Regions from separate parts of the Homo sapiens genome. Here region 1 is linked to region 2. The links come from fine-mapping of genetic effects on gene expression. A gene starts in region 2. The other region holds a variant in brackets. All regions are shown on one strand. Distances are from middle to middle. Region 1 overlaps NLN (neurolysin). Region 2 holds the start of ERBIN (erbb2 interacting protein).

What was found.
Region 1: its variant is fine-mapped to the expression of ERBIN in tibial nerve (GTEx, PIP 0.98).

Annotation. Positions count from the first base shown.
Region 1 is chr5:65,798,331-65,806,664 of GRCh38, reverse strand. The region is part of intron 9 of NLN (neurolysin); the gene reads right to left. Among named protein-coding and RNA genes, the nearest start is that of NLN, 80 kb to the right of the region's middle. The variant G/C (reference allele first, on the strand shown) is at 5,034.
Region 2 is chr5:65,923,385-65,931,718 of GRCh38, reverse strand. ERBIN (erbb2 interacting protein) reads right to left here and starts at 5,144. Exons shown (of 26, transcript NM_001253697.2): 1 at 4,913-5,144. RefSeq lists enhancers at 4,991-5,210, 5,171-5,795, 6,701-6,920, 6,420-7,044 and a silencer at 5,291-6,380.

The DNA.
Region 1 (8,334 bases), 130 kb after region 2:
GCATCTTCACCAGGAGTAGATTGCATATAAAGAAGTCACTTCTGTTGCTCATCCTTAAGAAGCAACTCCTCATCTCTTTAAGTTTTATCATGAGATTGCAGCAATTCAGTCACATCTTCAGGCTCCACTTCTAATTTTAGTTGTCCTGCTGTTTCTACCATATCTGCAGCTCCTTCCTCCACTGAGGTCTTGAACCCCTTCCTCAAAGTCATCTATGAGGGTTGAAATCAATTTCTTACAAATTTCTGTTAATGTTGATATTTTGATCTCTTCCCATGAATCATGCATGTTCTTAATGGCATTTGGAATGGTGAATCCTTTCCAGAAGGTTGTCAATGTACTTTGCCAAGATCCCTCAGAGAAATTACTATATATGGCAGCTGTAGTCTTATGAAATGTATTTCTCATAATAATAAGACTTGAAAGTTGAAATTACTCCTCGATCCATGGACAGCAGAATGGCTGTTGTGTTAGCAGGCATGAAAACAACATAATCTTCTGGAACATCTCCATCCAAGCTCTTGTCTGACCAGGTGCTTTGTCAAGGAGTGGTAATATTTTGAAAGGAATCTTTTTTTTTTGAGTAGTAGATCTCAACAGTGGCTTAAAATAGTCAGTAAACCATGCTGTAAACAGATGTGTTGTCATCCAGGCTTTGTTGTTTCATTTATAGGGCACAGGCAGAGTGGATTCAGCATAATTCTTAAGGGCTCTAGAATTTTCAGAATGGTAAATAAGCATTGGCTTCAACTTCAAGTCACCAGCTGCATTAACTCCTAAGAGGAGAGTCAGCCTGTCCCTTGAAGCTTTCAAGCCAGGCATTGACATCTCTCTAGCATTCCTGAAAGTCCTAGACGGCATCTTCTACCAATAGAAGGCTATTTCATCTACATGGAAGATCTGTCATTTAGTGTAGCCACATTCATCAATGATCTTAACTAGATCTTCTGGATAACTTGCCACAGCTTCTAAATCAGCAATTGCTGCTTCACCTTGCACTTTTATGTTATGGAAACAGCTTCTTTCTTTAAAACTCATGAACCAACCTCTGCTACCTTCCAACTTTTCTTCTGCAGCTTCCTCACTTCTCTCAGCTTCATAGAATGGGAGTTAGGGTCTTGCTCTGGATTAGACTTTGTCTTAAGGGAATGTTGTAGCTGGTTTCATCTTCTACCCAGACCACTAAAACTTTCTCCACTCAGCAACAAGTCTATTTTGCTTTCTTATTATTTGTGTGTTCATTGGAGTAGCACTTGTAATAACTTTCAGGAACTTTTTCCTTTGTTTCATAACTTGACTGACTGGCACAAGAGGCCTATCTCATCTTTTGACATGCCTCCCTCGTGAAGTTTGATCATTTCTAGCTTTTGATTTAAAGCAAAAGACTTATGACTCTTCCTTTCACTTGAACACTTACAGATCATTGTAGGGTTATTGACTAATCTAATTTCAACATTGTTGAGTCTCAGATAGGAGGCCAAAAGAGGGGGTGAGAAATGGGAAATGGCCGGTGGAGCAGTCAGTATACATATAACATTCATCAATTAAGTTCACTCTCTTATAAAGAGCATGATTTGTGTTGCCTCAAAACAATTGCAATAGTAATATCAAAGATTGCTGGTCACAATAACAGATATAAAAATAATGGAAAAGTCTGAAATACTGTGAGAATTACAAAAATGTGACATAGAGACATGAAGGGAGCACATTCTGTTGGAAAAATTGCACTGACAGACTTGCCTGGGCAACATGGCAAGACCCTGTCTCTATTTCATAAAAAAGGAAATCACTGATCACAGATCACCATAACAGACACAATAACAATGAAAAAATTGTCCGGGTGTGGTAGCTCACATCTGTAATCCCAGAACTTCAGAAGGCCGAGGTAGGCAGATCATTTGAGGCCAGGAGATCAAGATCAGCTTGGCCCACACGGTGAACCCATGTCTACTAAAAATACAAAAAAAAATTAGCTGGGTGTGGTGGTATGTGCCTGTAATCCCAGCTACTTAGGAGGCTGAGACAGGAGATTGCTTGAACCCAGGAGGTGGAGGTTGCAGTGAGCTGAGACTGCACCACTGGACTCCAACCTGAGCAACAGGGTGTGACTCCATCAAAAACAAAGAAAAAAGTGAAATATTGTGAGAATCCCAAAACGTGAACAGAGACAAGAAGTAAGCACATGCTGTTGGAAAAACAGCACTAACACACTTGTTTAAAGCATGGTTGACATAAACCTTCAATTTGTAAAAAACAAAATATCTGTGAAGTACAATAAGTGAAGGACAATAAAATGAGGTGTGCTCATATCATGGGCTCTTTACATGGATTATCTGATTTAAATCCCAAAATAATTGTATGAAGTAACTATTATCTCCCTTTTTGAGATAAGGAAACTAAAGCATACAGAGATTAATGATGTAACTTCAATTTGAAACCAGGCAGTCTGACTTCATAACCCACAATCTTAACCACAAATGCTAACTGTCTCCGTATCTTAGAGTAAAATGGAAAAAAAAGGTTAAATGATATTACAAAATGACTAAATCCTCTTGGATGGGATCTAAAATACAAAAGTCTTATATCAAACCCTCCTTTATGTGAAGAGTTAAAGTGAGTTTTCAGTGTGCTTCCTTAGAAATTTGACTTCTTCTTTATACTGGAAGATTTTTCAAAGATCAAACATGAAGCTGAAGTGTAAAGACCAGCCTTTGTAACCATCTATCCTGAACTTGCGATTCTGCAATACTACTGATGGCAGTGGTGGCCCATCTCGGCTGCAGTGGGGGAAGCGTGGCTGGGGCTGTGCGCTCCATGGAGCTGGCAGGAGCCAGGAACAGGCAGAAAAGTCCTTCCCCCTTCTAAGTTGGCAGGGCAAGAGCCTCACCCTCCTGGGCATAGCTGCAGCTGCCCAAGCTGTGGCTGCTGACCCAGGTATGCCTGTGCTCTTGGGGGCCAGGAGCAGGCAGGAGCCCTACCCTCCTGGGCACAGCTGCGGTTTCCTAAGCCATAGATGCAGACCTGGGCATCCCTGTACTCTTAGGGGCTGGAAGAAGGCAGGAGCCCCACCCTCCTGGGTGTAGCTACAGCTACCCAGCCATGGCTGCGGACCCAGGCATCTCTGTACTCTCAGGGGCCCCGGAAGCTCCCCCAACCCATTAGCGGCACCTGCTCTGATCTTGGAGCAAAGCTGAGGTCAATCCCAGGCACTGTCACAACCTGGCCAGGTGTCCATATGCTCAGGACAGCACTGACATGCCAGCCCCTTGCTGCCTCAGCCCCTACTGAACTTTGGGCACTGACGAGCATGGGAGGGAAGCTGAGGGGGGAACTGAGCGTGGCTTGGCACTGGCCTGCAGGTGCCCCTCTGCATGAACAGCCTGGGCACCATAAACAGTGGTAGCAGGCAGACAGGTTCCTGGGCAGAAAGGGGTGGGTCCCTGGTGAAGCCCCACCTTCAAGCCAGGGAAGGCCTGAAGCCTGGGGGCCAGGCTGCCAGTCCTGCAGACCAGAGTGGGAACTTATGGTGCTTTTGCCAGGCCCACCCATAAGCCAATCAGCCTGCACGTTCTCCCCTCTGAAGCCCATAAAAACACTGGACTCAGCCAGACTTGAGCTGATGTCAGGACAACCAGCTGCAGAGAGGAGCTACCCACTCCAGGGTCTCCTCTCTGCTGACAGCTGAGCAGACATCGGGACGATCAGCTGTAAAGAGGAGCTACATATCCCAGGGTCTCCTCTATACTGAAAGTTGAAAAGATGGTGGGACAAACCAGCTGCGGAGAGGAACTACCCACCCCAGGGTCTCTTCTCTGCTGAGAGCTGAACCCTCTACAGGATGACCTACCTGTGGAGAGGAGCTATCCACTCCAGGGTCTACTCTCTGCTGATAGCTGAACACTCACATTGGTACACCCTGGTTGTGGAGAGGAGCTACCCATTGTGCGTCTCCTCTAAGCTGTTCTATTGCTCAGTAAAGCTCCTCTTTGCCTTGCTCACCCTCCACTTGTTCGTATACCTCCTTCTTCCTGGGCACGGGACAGGAACTCGGGACCTGCCGAATGGTGGGGCCTAAAGGGCTATAACACAAACAGGGCTGAAACATGCCCCTTGCTCGCCATGCTGTGGGCAACAAGGAGAGAAGAGTTGTGGCCCTTCAGGGAACCCAGACCTAGGAGCTCCCTGAGCTAGGGCTGTGATACCTTCTTTGGGGCTATGTGGTTCCCAGCGTCTCTAAGCTTCTGGGTGCCACTGTGTTCCCCAGTGCCAGCTGTGAAAGCTGCTTGTGGTACGCCTGGTCCGGCTGCAGCCTTGCAGGCAGCCTTGCCTCCAGCGCCTGTGCTGGCACCTGGAGCTGCTTGCACCGCCATAGCCAGCATGCCTGGCTGTGTGCAGTGGCTGGACCCCATGCTTGCTCACTCATGCACCCCTTGCCACTCCACTTGCCCTTGGCAGGCATGGGATCCAGGCCAGTAGTGCGAGCTGAGTGCAGCCTGCCAGGCTGAGTGGGCCCAGTGGGCCCAAGCAAAACCTGGGCAAAGGTACCACTGGTCACAGAGGTTTCTGGCTGGTGATGCGACACCCCAAGGATCCCGTGACACTACTGCACAATTTTCTCAAGGTGATGGTTTTTAAATAGGTACTAACAGCAAATAAAGGCCAAATCACACCATCAGCCACCACCATATGATATACTGACAAAAATACAGACTTTGTATATCCTGCTTGTATGAAGATTTTTCAGTCATTAGTTGCATATGAGGGAGGAAGTCAACCCCAAATGACAACAAAAATGTGTGTATGTGTGTTTGTGTGTGTAGGGGAGGATTCAATATCCAGAAAAAAAATACACAAATGATAATTCATGAGCTAGAGTAAAAACTGAATAAAATAAGAACACAGTTAATGTCATGCAGAGTAGAGAAGAGAGCGCTTATTCTATTCAAAAGCCATTTTGTAGCTGGGGAGACAGCACAGCAAATGAATGAAAGATCAACAATGTCTTCTAAAGAACAAAAGGAAATGTTTGTAAG[G/C]AGAAAAAGCTAAAAATAACCCTAGTGCTTACTAATTTCCCGAAAGTTGGTCATGCTGTTTCTCTGTGAGCCCTTTGGGCAACATCATTTAAATATTTTTCAAAAAAGGAGGACAAAGAACCTACAAAATTTGAAAGCTCAATTTGCAGCAAACAACCGAATTCTCAAGAGAAAGGAATGCAGTCAGCCACTGTGTATGTCCACACAGAAACCATGGGTAAGACTCACAATCTAGCAGCCTAATGGATCTTATACAAAACAGCATGGGTGCTGAACCATTACTCACTGTTGACCAGCCAACAAATACCATTCCCCAGTTTTTAAACTATAATCCAAAGAACCCTAAAAAAGTACTTCATATAGTTATCAATGCAAACAATTTGAAGGTGTTGGTAATAGTTGCTTATGGGCCATGATAACTATTGATGCTAATGTATTTCCCAGATAAAGCAGTAAAAAACACACAAAATAATCCAATTAACAAATATTTTTTGTAGCTGACACTTCAAAGAGTTTTAGGGCATTTTTTTTGCTGCAGGAAATATTTAGATAACAAAAGCCTAGAAAACAATGTAAACTTAGATTCCTGTTTGGTTAGAAGTTCTTGAGAGGAAGACAGTTGTCTAAATACACGATTTTGGCCAGGCACAGTGGCTCATGCCTGTAATTCCAGCACTTTGAGACGTAGAAGCAGGAGAATTGATTGAGCTCAGGAGTTCAAGATCAGCCTGGGCAACATTGTGAAACCCCATCTCTACAAAAACTATAAAAAAATTAGCTGGGCATGGTGGTGCATTCCTGTAGTCTCAGCTACTCAGGAGTCTGAGATGGGAGGATCGCTTGAGCCTGGAAGGTGGAGGCTGAGGCTGCAGTGAGCCATGATCATGCCACTGCACTCCAGCCTGGGCAACAGAGTGAGACCCTGCCTCAAAATAAATAAATAAATAAATAAATAAATAAATAAATAAGAGAGTTTTCTTCACTATCCAAGCTAGAGTGCAGTGGCAGAATCTCAGCTCACTGCAAGCTCCGCCTCCTGGGTTCACGCCATTCTCCTGCCTCCCGAGTAGCTGGGGCTACAGGCGCCCGCCACCATGTCCAGCTAATTTTTTGTATTTTTAGTAGAGATGGGGTTTCACCGTGTTAGCCAGGATGGTCTCGATCTCCTGACCTCGTGATCTGCCCGCCTCTGCCTCCCAAAGTGCTGGGATTATAGGCATGAGCCACCATGCCTGGCTGTCTTTACTATCTTTTAAACAAACAATAGGATGTCTAAAATGTACTCTGTTTCAGATTTTTACAACAGATAACTTGATGCTATAGAGATTAACTTTGCAATTCCTACAGTGCAATAAGAACAGGAACAGAATCATATAAATTGAAGCTTCGGAAGTCCTATGAGCTTCTGCTGTATTTAAAGGCCTAAATCTTACATGTGACTGTTCTAATTAAGAGAACAGTTGCTTTTAATGGCTACAACTAAGTGTTATTTCCATGATAGCAAATCCCAACTCAAAGAAAAGGCAGTTGCTGAAATCAATAAGTGTATTGTGCTCATGAAAAAGGACAGGCCTCAGGAGACCTGACATTGGCTGTCTGAGGTGATCCAGTACTGATTTCTTAGCAGTCATTCCACATCCTGGCCTGTCTAATCTATCCCTAAATCCAGGGATGATGGAGAAGTTTATATAACAAGGCAAGGTATTTTTTTTTTAAAGTGACCACTATCTACTAGACTTTGCCATAAACAGATGATTAAAAGGCCATAGTTTTAACTTCACACATACCGAGTGATCACTGGAAATAATAGTAATAAAGATAATGTGTTGACATCCTTCTTTATCTTCACAACTGCCCTATAGTTCAACAGTTCAGTATCACCATCATCCTTTAAAGGACCCAGGAAATAACATAATTTGGAGAAGTTTTGAATACTGCATATTAAGTTCACAGGCTTGCTCCCAAACTAGCTGTACCTTCCTGATCAGGTACATCTTATTTAAACTGCTTCTTTTTAAGATGAAAACAAATAAAGGTACTATTCAAACTCAAATGCTAGAGAGTATGCTTTATTCACCACTGTATTTCCAAAATCCAGCACAGAAAGTAGAGGATGTCCAATAAATATCTGTGAAATGGATGAAGCCCTGGGGAGAATATTTCTGTATGAAGATTCAAACTTAAACAACTCAAAGATATTTTCCCTTGTTATCATTCTTGACCTCAACCTCTCACCTCTCTACTTTTTTTCAATACTTAAAATTCTACTTTTATTATTTTACTTAATATTATGCTTTTAATTTTTTATTTGTTGCACTTCATGTCCTCAAGCTAAATTCTGAACATTCAAGATACTATAACTTTTCTTTCTTTTGAACCCCATCCTACCATAGGTAATATGACATGTCAGACACATAGTCAATAATTCTGTTTCTTAAAATAACTATATAGGCTGGGCATGGTGGCTCACACCTGTAATCCCAGCATTTTGGGAGGCTGACTTGGGCAGATTGCTTGAGCCCAGGAATTCAAGATCAGCCTGGGCAACATGGTGAAACCCTATCTCTACAAAAAATACAAAAATTACCCTGGTGTAGTGGTACATGCCTGTGGTCCCAGCTACTTAGGAAGCTGAGGTGGGAGGATCAACTGAGCCTGGAGAGGTGGAGGCTACAGTGAGCCATGATTGTGCCACTGCACTCCAGCCTGAGTGACAGAGTGAGACCCTGTCTCCAAAAACAAACAAACAAAAAACTAAACATCCCTCTCTTTAAAAAATATTTTGATTTTTAAAAAATAATACATGTAGAAAATGCACTAAGCAAATGAAAGAAATAAGCACATTCCCAAATAAACATTATGCATTAATACATTCATATTTTGGTTTATGACTTCATTTATTTTATTTACACATGTATGTATTGTTTATATATGTATAAGCAAACAAATAAAATAACAAAAAGAAGATCTTGAAAGAAATTACATCTGATGTTAAAGTCACAAACTAAAACAGTGTGCAGGAGTTGGGGCTAGGGAGACAGGGTGACAGCAGAGGCCACAAAGCTGATGATAGGGAGTTCACTGCATTTTAGGACTGAAACCTCAACAGTCAACTCACACAGAGGGAAACCTAGAAATAAATAAATGCATTCATTCCACATTTGCATTCATTCTACATTATTAGAGTGTCATTTAATAAACTTAGGAGAAGGAAGCCCATCCAACACATTTGGAAGACCAAATTCAGACCATGAATAATAGTATTGTCTCCAGTGCATGGAATGGGAGCGCAAATACGCAA
Region 2 (8,334 bases):
TGGAGTGAAGAAGCAGATATGAGAATCGAGCTGTTTTCTATTAAGCCAAACATAAGAGACTTGCAAAAATATAAAACATTGCCACTATTTTTGCTATTTATTTTAGAAAACAATTATATTTTTATTAAAACAATGTTACACTAACATGCAATAGCTTATTTTCAAATAAATTAATTTTTTTTAATTTCTGTTTTGAGTCAAACCAAAAAGTCTGAGAACAGCTGCCTTAGGACTATTACTATTTCTTGTAATTATACCATATTATAACAGAGTGAATCCTCCTACAGGGAAATGAAATGTACAAGGCACTTAGCCTCAAAGTAAGTTGTCCCAGATTATTTTCTAAGTTATTCAGTCATCTTTCCATTTTTCTATTGCTTCACTGTAACACCACAGGTCATAACTTCACAATGCTGTAAACGTACCTTTCTCACGCCTTCTGGGATACCAAAGAACCAAAAACAGCTCATTATGTACATAAGTAAATGGGCTCTGAATAATAATGGCCCTAAAAGTGAAGTCCCCAGACTCTGTCATACCTGTTGTGATTAAGGAGATGTCATTTTTTATTTTCTAGTTTTTCTACTACATTCAATATGCTTTTAAAGCTATAATAAATAACCTCCAGATAAGTAGAGTCTTATTAAGTGAATTTTTAGATATTCTCCTTTTCTATCGTCTTCCACAAAGTGAATTTTTAGATATTCTCCTTTTCTATCGTCTTCCACACTATCACTTAAAGCCTGGCAAGACCTTCATTCAATGGTGTCTGGAACAAAATTTGAAGTGACAAAAATAGAGTGATAGAGTACTATTGTGCTTATTTCATGAAATCAAAGAAAGATAATTTCAAAATTTTAGGGATTCTGTGTCAGAGAAGACATCTAACTTGAAAGGTAGGACAGAAGAGGAAGGTACAGAGAAGAAGGAACAGAGAAATATATCTGTATGTTTTAAGAGGCCAAAAGTATAATAAAACAAGAAGGTAGAGAGGGTTACAAAGTCTTAATACATAAGAATAAATAACAACCTGGTATTATCTTAACAGTCAATTTTAAGAACACTAAAGAGAAAAAGGAAAACTGAGAAAACAAAGTATAAAACAAACAATGGCCGGGAGCGGTGGCTCATGCCTGTAATCCCAGCACTTTGAGAGGCCGAGGTGGGCAGATCACGAGGTCAGGAGATAAAGACCATCCTGGCTAACACGGTGAAACCGCGTCTCTACTAAAAATACAAAAAAATTAGCCGGGCACAGTGGCGGGCGCCTCTAGTCCCAGCTACTCGGGAGGCTGAGGCAGGAGAATGGCGTGAACCTGGGGGAGGCGCAGCTTGCAGTGGGCCAAAATCTTGCCACTGCACTCCAGCCTGGGCGACAGAGCAAGACTCCATCTCAAAATAAACAAAGCAATATACTGATGAATATAAAGTTAAAATACCAGCATGTACACTTAGTTGAAATGCAAAGGGGATATTCAGAATTAAATGGGCTAATAAAATAAGATCAGATAAACTTTTTCCACTGCATGTTTTGAACAGTTTTTTGAGGTGATAAACATAGACTAACAGTTTGGAAAAGAGGGAAATGGCAAAATATAATTAAGAACGACCAACTGAACACAGAGAAAATAAGGCTAGGTAAATGAAGCTAACTATAAATATAGGAAGCTAAGGGAATCAGAAGAGAAAGCTGAATAGCAGCTAAGTTTCTTTTTTACAATTAGGAAACCTAAGAAGAGACAGCTAAAAAGTGAATCTGAAAAATGGGAGTTAGCAGTAGGCCGGGCTCAGTGGCTCACACCTGTAATCCCAGCACTTCGGTAGGCCAAGGTGGGCAGATCACCTGAGGTCGGGAGTTCGAGACCAGCCTGGCCAACATGGCAAAACCTGTCTCTACTAAAAATACAAAAATTAGCTAGGCATGATGATGTGCGCTTGTAATCCCAGCTACTTGGGAGGCTGAAGCAGGAGAATCGCTGGAACCCGGGAGGTGGAGGTTGTGGTGAGTCGAGATTGTGCCACTGCACTCCAGCCTAGGCAACAGAGCAAGACTCCATCTCGAAAAAAAAAAAAAAAAAAAAGAGGAAAAGACAAAGACATCTTTAGAGGTTTATAATAGAGATGTATTCCCAGAAAAAGAAAACGGAAGCAAGCATGTAACAAATTCAAGAAATGAATGAGCAAGGCAAAGAGTCAAAATGCAAGCAGCCAAGTAGGGTATGTAAGGAGAATCTGGATAAGCAGCAATTACGAAAAATAAAAAAGAAACTGCTACCCAGCATCACTAAAATTCTGCATAATCCCAAATACTCTGTAAGTACTGCCATAATCTATTTCCAAAACAAAAGCAGCTTAAAGTCTAAATCGTATTATCCGTAAGCAATTATTTCAAATAAGTAATTTTGAAATATACACCTATTTTCTGAAACTTTTAACTATTTCTTAAAGGGTATTATTTACTACTAATAGTGCAATACCAACAATGTGTAAAATAATCGATTTTTGAGATTTGCCAATGATATATGTTAATGTATCTATAGTTATCACTTCATTAAGAAACAGCATACAATAAAAATTTGGTTTCCATGTTTGTACCTCTGTAAGCTTTTTATACATAAAGTTTACAATAGTTTGATCTCAAATGGCAAGGAGACCTCGTAACAGTACTACTTGAATCAGTTGAAGTCCTGAAAATTCATGATTACCTTCAATAAACAGAGCCTTTAAGTGTGTATTTTGTGCAATATAGACTTTGGAAGTACTCTCTATTTGCCAATTTAATCTTTGAAAATCCACACCATACTAGAAGAATATCCAAATTTTGAAGCCATTTAAAAATATTTTAACGGATGACTCCTCTATTAACCTCTTTTCAAACCTTTGTCACAGTTTAAACAAAGCTTCGAAAATACTTATAGTTTCACAATAGTATAAAACCTAAAATTTAAGTTAATTCGGTGATAAACTAACAGAATTCCAAGAAAACTACGAAGTAAATTATGCCTTGTTGAGGAGAAAAAAAAGAAACACAAAGGTGAACACCTCACTTCATAAAACGTGTTGTCTGCATCGAAACATACTACTCTTCTCCTGAGAAAAAAAATCAAGAACTAAATCTAAAAATAGAGGCTTAAATAGTCATTTTCAAGTGCTACAATACTTTTTTTATACAAAATTTACTAATAAATAACCATCTTCATAAAGCGATAATTCTCTGTAAGGGACTTGCTCTATTAAGGTTTTGTTGCTTTTGAAGCCAAGTATAAGCCATATAAGGAAACTGAAGTTCAATGCCATTTATTTTGTTCACCTCTTTCAGATGCCCAAGAATAACCTCTTTTGCAGCCTAATGATACGTTCCAAAATCATAAAGTAGATGAGTTATGCACTTTAAATTCTTTGATAAAGCTAGTTTGACTTAACAAGAATTATTCCATGGTTCACAAATCTTACCAACAATGAAAAAAAAAAAGAATCTCCTGAGACCATGCCCCGGGGAGGAAAAAAAAAATCAAAACTACAGTAATAAATAAAGGACTGCCTTTGGAGATGTACTTAATGAAGCTGAAGTAGCAAAGAACAAATTGTGAAATAATTTGATCCTGATCTTTAAAACTTATTTTTTCTCTTTGAACTAAAGAAAATCAACTCTCTCCTCGGGTTTCCGGTCATTACGTGAGACAGCATAGGCAATCTAAACATCAATATATATTTAGGATATACCTACCAACAGGATTACCAAATTTATTCAATATATATTCAAAAGTACAGTATTGTATTTCACCTCCCTGTACCGCAAAAATACCGGGAAAAAAAGTAAACAGAAAAAGACTAAAACACCACTGAAAAAAACTTTGGGTTTACTGCTATCAAAACTAGTCCCCATTGGTTCAGAAGTGTTCATAGCTCTGACTGGTGGAATGTCTGCCATGCTTCATGAATCCTGCCCCCACAGATGTAGGCAGAACCTATCACTATTTATGCAGAACCGACCAAAAACATTTGGGACAACACAAAAATGTAAAGACCATACTACTCGAAAAGCACAGCTTTTTATCACAATCACTGTGATTCCCTTGAAAATCGTTTTAAGCGTTTTACTTCCCCTCCCATCGTCTGTTCTGAACTGTACAGAAGTCCTATTAAACGTCTTACAGGTTGTTAATGTTGTTTAATTATCTCTCCCTATTCTTAGTCCTTACTCCTTTTTTCTTCGTAATGGATCAGTTACAAGAAAAGCCTAGTCGATCCTTGCTTTCAATTAATTAAACAAGTTATACGGCGCTAAACGTCTGAAAAACACACACTACACACAACTAAAGAAATATATTACTCACCCTGAAAAACAACTAAGAATGGCAAGATTTTTTGGTTTCTAAAATCTAACTAAATATACTGATCAGGGTTGGAAATAAAAAAATAAAAATAAATACCTCTATATACAATTAACGCAAGCGCCAATATAATCGGTATGAGTATAAACAAACGCGGCAGCCATCTCAATAACAGCAAATCACTCACTGCAGCGACCAAACTTTCTTCCCAAACAGAAGGTGCCTGGCTGAGCAACTTAATATACACTCTATACGTTCCAGAAAGCCAAAACTTCTGGCCCCTGTGCTGAACAAAGGCAATCGTTCTTCGGATTACTAAAAACTTTTCGTCCCACCGCATTCTTACAACCTCTTCCAAAAAATTCAAAGTCCAGATGGTGGGGGGGGCAGGGGGGAGAAGGGACGCGGTGGGGTGCAGTTCGATTATTTAGCCCCTCAATTATTAACCGCTTCGATATGAGAAAAGGAGGGTTTAGGGCAACTTGGAGAAGAGTGAAAAACACTAAAGAATCATCTCTTTTCCGAGTCACAAAGTCCCATGAACTTTGTGACTCAGAGACACTTTTCGTGAAAATTACCTTTCGGCGGGACACCGTCTCAGGGCAGCTTTTTCAAGGCTTCGCTTGACATGATTTCCTTCCCTTCATCAGTCACTTTGGATCCAGCTGAATATCTCTCTCGGGTGAGAGCGGATGTGGACTGGCCTCCCACAGAAGAAGAGTAGGTGGCTTTGGTGGGGGTTGGGGTGCGGGCTGGCTTCCTGGTCTCGAGTTTTGCAGGAGTTTCCCAGCCCCAACGAGGATCTCCGCCGAAAAAAAAAAAAACAAAACTTTTCACTCGTGACACCGCCCGGAATTGCAGTGCGAAACTCACTTCCTGCCTTGGCGAGAAGCAGGATCCAGCTCCGTCCAGGGGAACCCGGAAAACCAGCTCCGCGCGCACCGGAGAGGGGGAGGGGAGGGGACGGCCGCCGGGAGCCTCGGGTTCCGGGCAACCGGCGCGCCCGGCACACCGGACGGCAGCAGCACCCGGCCGGCGGGGGCGAGGACGCTGCCCGGGCGCTCGGCGAGCCTCGGCCGCGCTAGGCCGCCACCGCTTCCTCTCCGTTGCCCCCAGAGCCGGGCGGCAGGGTTATTGTCTCGATAGCGCTTGCCGCGCCCTTCGTCCGCGACGCCGCTGCCGCCGCCACCCGGAGCCGGAGCCGAGGAGTCGGGCAGGCTCAATAGCGGCCCCCTCCCCGGGCCGTCCGTCGGGCCGTCCGTCCTTCCGTCCGTCCCTCCCCGCTTTCCCTACTCGCCCTCGAACCCTCTTCTCCTCCCTCTCCCGTTTTCCCGCCACCGTCCCTCCGCTGCCCTGCTTGTTCTCCTTCGCCAGCGGCGGTGGCTCCCCGAGACGCGCAGGGGGCGGGAGCAGGAGGCAGCTCCGTCTCCTCACGAGCTTGCGGGGCCGCGGCAGGGGCCGAGACTGCGTCCCGCGCCGCCGCGCCACATTCACTCGAGCGAGAGACGGCGAGGGGAGGGAGGACGGAGGGAGCGGAGAGAAAGGAGGAGGAATGGGGCAGGGGCGGAGGGGAGTTACTGCCTCACAGGCCGCGGCGGCAACAGCGCCACCGCCCCGGCCGCGACGGGTGAAGAGGCTGCGCGCCGCGACTCTGCGGCGGGGGCGGGGGCGGGGCGGCCTCCCGCCGGCTTCGCCCCAACCGCCAACAGCCGGGCAGGAGGCCTGCGCGGGCCAGTCAGCGCGCGGGGGCGGTGCGGGCCGACGTCGGCGGCTGGGGGCAGCGGGCCGGGGGCCGGGGGAGGGGCAGCCGGCGGCCGTGGGTTCGCGTGCAAGGCGCGCCGTGAGGCCCACTCTGGCCCAGGCCCCTCGAGGCCTGCCCGCTGCTCCCTGCCCGCTCCCCGACCCCGCACTCCCGGACTCCCGAGCCCCCCAGGGTGGGGAACGCTGGCAACGCCGACCCTGCTGTCTGCTCGCGGCCCAGCGCCCAGCCAGAGAGATAGAGAGCCCACAGGCCTCCGCCGCGCCGGCCGATGGAGTTTCTTTGTACGACAGTAATCGGTGCACAGGGGTTGTTGGAGTCCAGCCCTGATTTGAAGGCAGCAGGTATCTCTTGCAGCTGCAGCACTCCAACTTCCTCTAATGGCACGGTCAGGTCGCAGGAAACCACAGCGGCAGCGCGGTGCAGCTTCCCACGCCCGCCCTTCGAGCTTGTTCCCCAGCGGCGCAGCTCAGCCTCCTCCAAGTCTCAGCCTCATACCGGCGGGGAGACAAAGCTGGCGCTGGGAGTGGGAAAAGGGCCCGCGAAATGGCCTCAAGATCGTGCCTTTGTTAGAAGAAACATGGGTACGCTCCGATGCGACGCAGGCTTCCAACCCCAGCGGTTCGGTGGTGGTGCAGTCGTTGAATTGCGCTGGCCCTAATAATTCAGCCTGGCAGGGTTCGCGTTTATTGCGGAGAGAGACTCTTAAGCATTCTGTCAACACATATGGCAAATAGAAAGCCTCAACCATAACATTGCACAGTTTTTGCAGTTCTTGCTTTAAATATGTTCACAGAAAAGACGGCCTTGTTTTACCCAGAGAAGGAGCGTAATGCGGAGCGAACCATTCGTCACCCCCATTCTCTGCTGCACTTAACTGTGTACAGTGATGATAATTAGCCTCTGGGTCCCTGAAGTCCCTGGTTCAGTTCTTCCGTCTGTATTCTAGAGATAATTATTTATTACCAAGTTTGAATAAAGAGCTATATCCCCTACAGACCTTTTTTTTTTTTTTTTTTTTGGCTTGCCAATGGAAAGAGTTCATAAATTCCACCAAGTAATCATTTACCAAAATGAGTTGTACATTAGTTGCAAACACTTGAAATAACGCCGAAGATATTCAAGTCATTTTATTCAGGTTGGGAGCATTTTTAACTACTTGAAGAACTGCTGGAATTAATACAGATGTTAGGTTATTTAGCATACAGCAGAAGTTGAAGATTTACAGGTAGTACTGAAGTGTTCAGATATATTCAGTGCTGAATTAGAGGTAAGAGTATTCGCTGGAAGCTAGGAAATGGCAGCAGCTATGCCAGTGTTACCAAGCTGGATATCTATGTGAAAATGAATCTTAACCATTGCATAAAAAGCTAAAGTTAGCATATTGTACAAGCTATTTGTAATCATCGCTGGGAAGATTTCTTGCTCCGTTTTCAAAAACCGTTTTGCGCCTGATCAGAACTCAGTGGCATAGCTCTGAACTGAAAGGGTCACTCTCCTAAAGCATCCCAGGATGGAATATCTCCCATACTAGTGGAAAACCAGCTAGATTCTGGGATTCCAGTGTTGCTTCTAATCTCAGGTTGATTCGAGACCCCTTTAAATGTGATGCCATAGATTCGAGTAAACCTAACCCTCCTCTCTAAACTTAACTGATCAAGCCACTGCTTTAGGCTAAGACTTGCCCTGGTCCTAGCCTTTTTAAAATTTATACTCACACTCAGGACCAATCTGACAGACTACCATCTAGGCTAGAAAAGTACCTATAATCAAAAACCCTCCAACTCACCTGAAATTCTGCCATTAGAGTTTTATCCCTTTAAGTAGTTTTTTTCTCTAGCACAAAACCATAATCCTGGGAAAAGTAATATTTTAATCCTTATTAGTCATTTATACCTAATTCATCAGATTGTTTCCCCAAAGCAGCTTTTGTTGGAAGGGAAAAATAGAGATAACTAGAGATAACATATGCTGAGGCTGAGTTGATAGGAGACGGAAATATAGTCTCATTCCTTGGAGCGTTATATAGAGAGTAGAGGATTACAGGCAATAAAAGGACCCTTTTGATGGCTAAATAAGTCCTGCTTACTCATACTGTAAGAATGAGCCACCTAATACACTGGCCTTAAGAGGATGGAATCTGGCCGGTTGCAGTGGCTCGCACCTGTAATCCCAGCACTTTGGAGGCTGAGGCGGGAGGATTGCTTGAGCCTAGGGGTTCAAGATCAGCCTGGACAACAT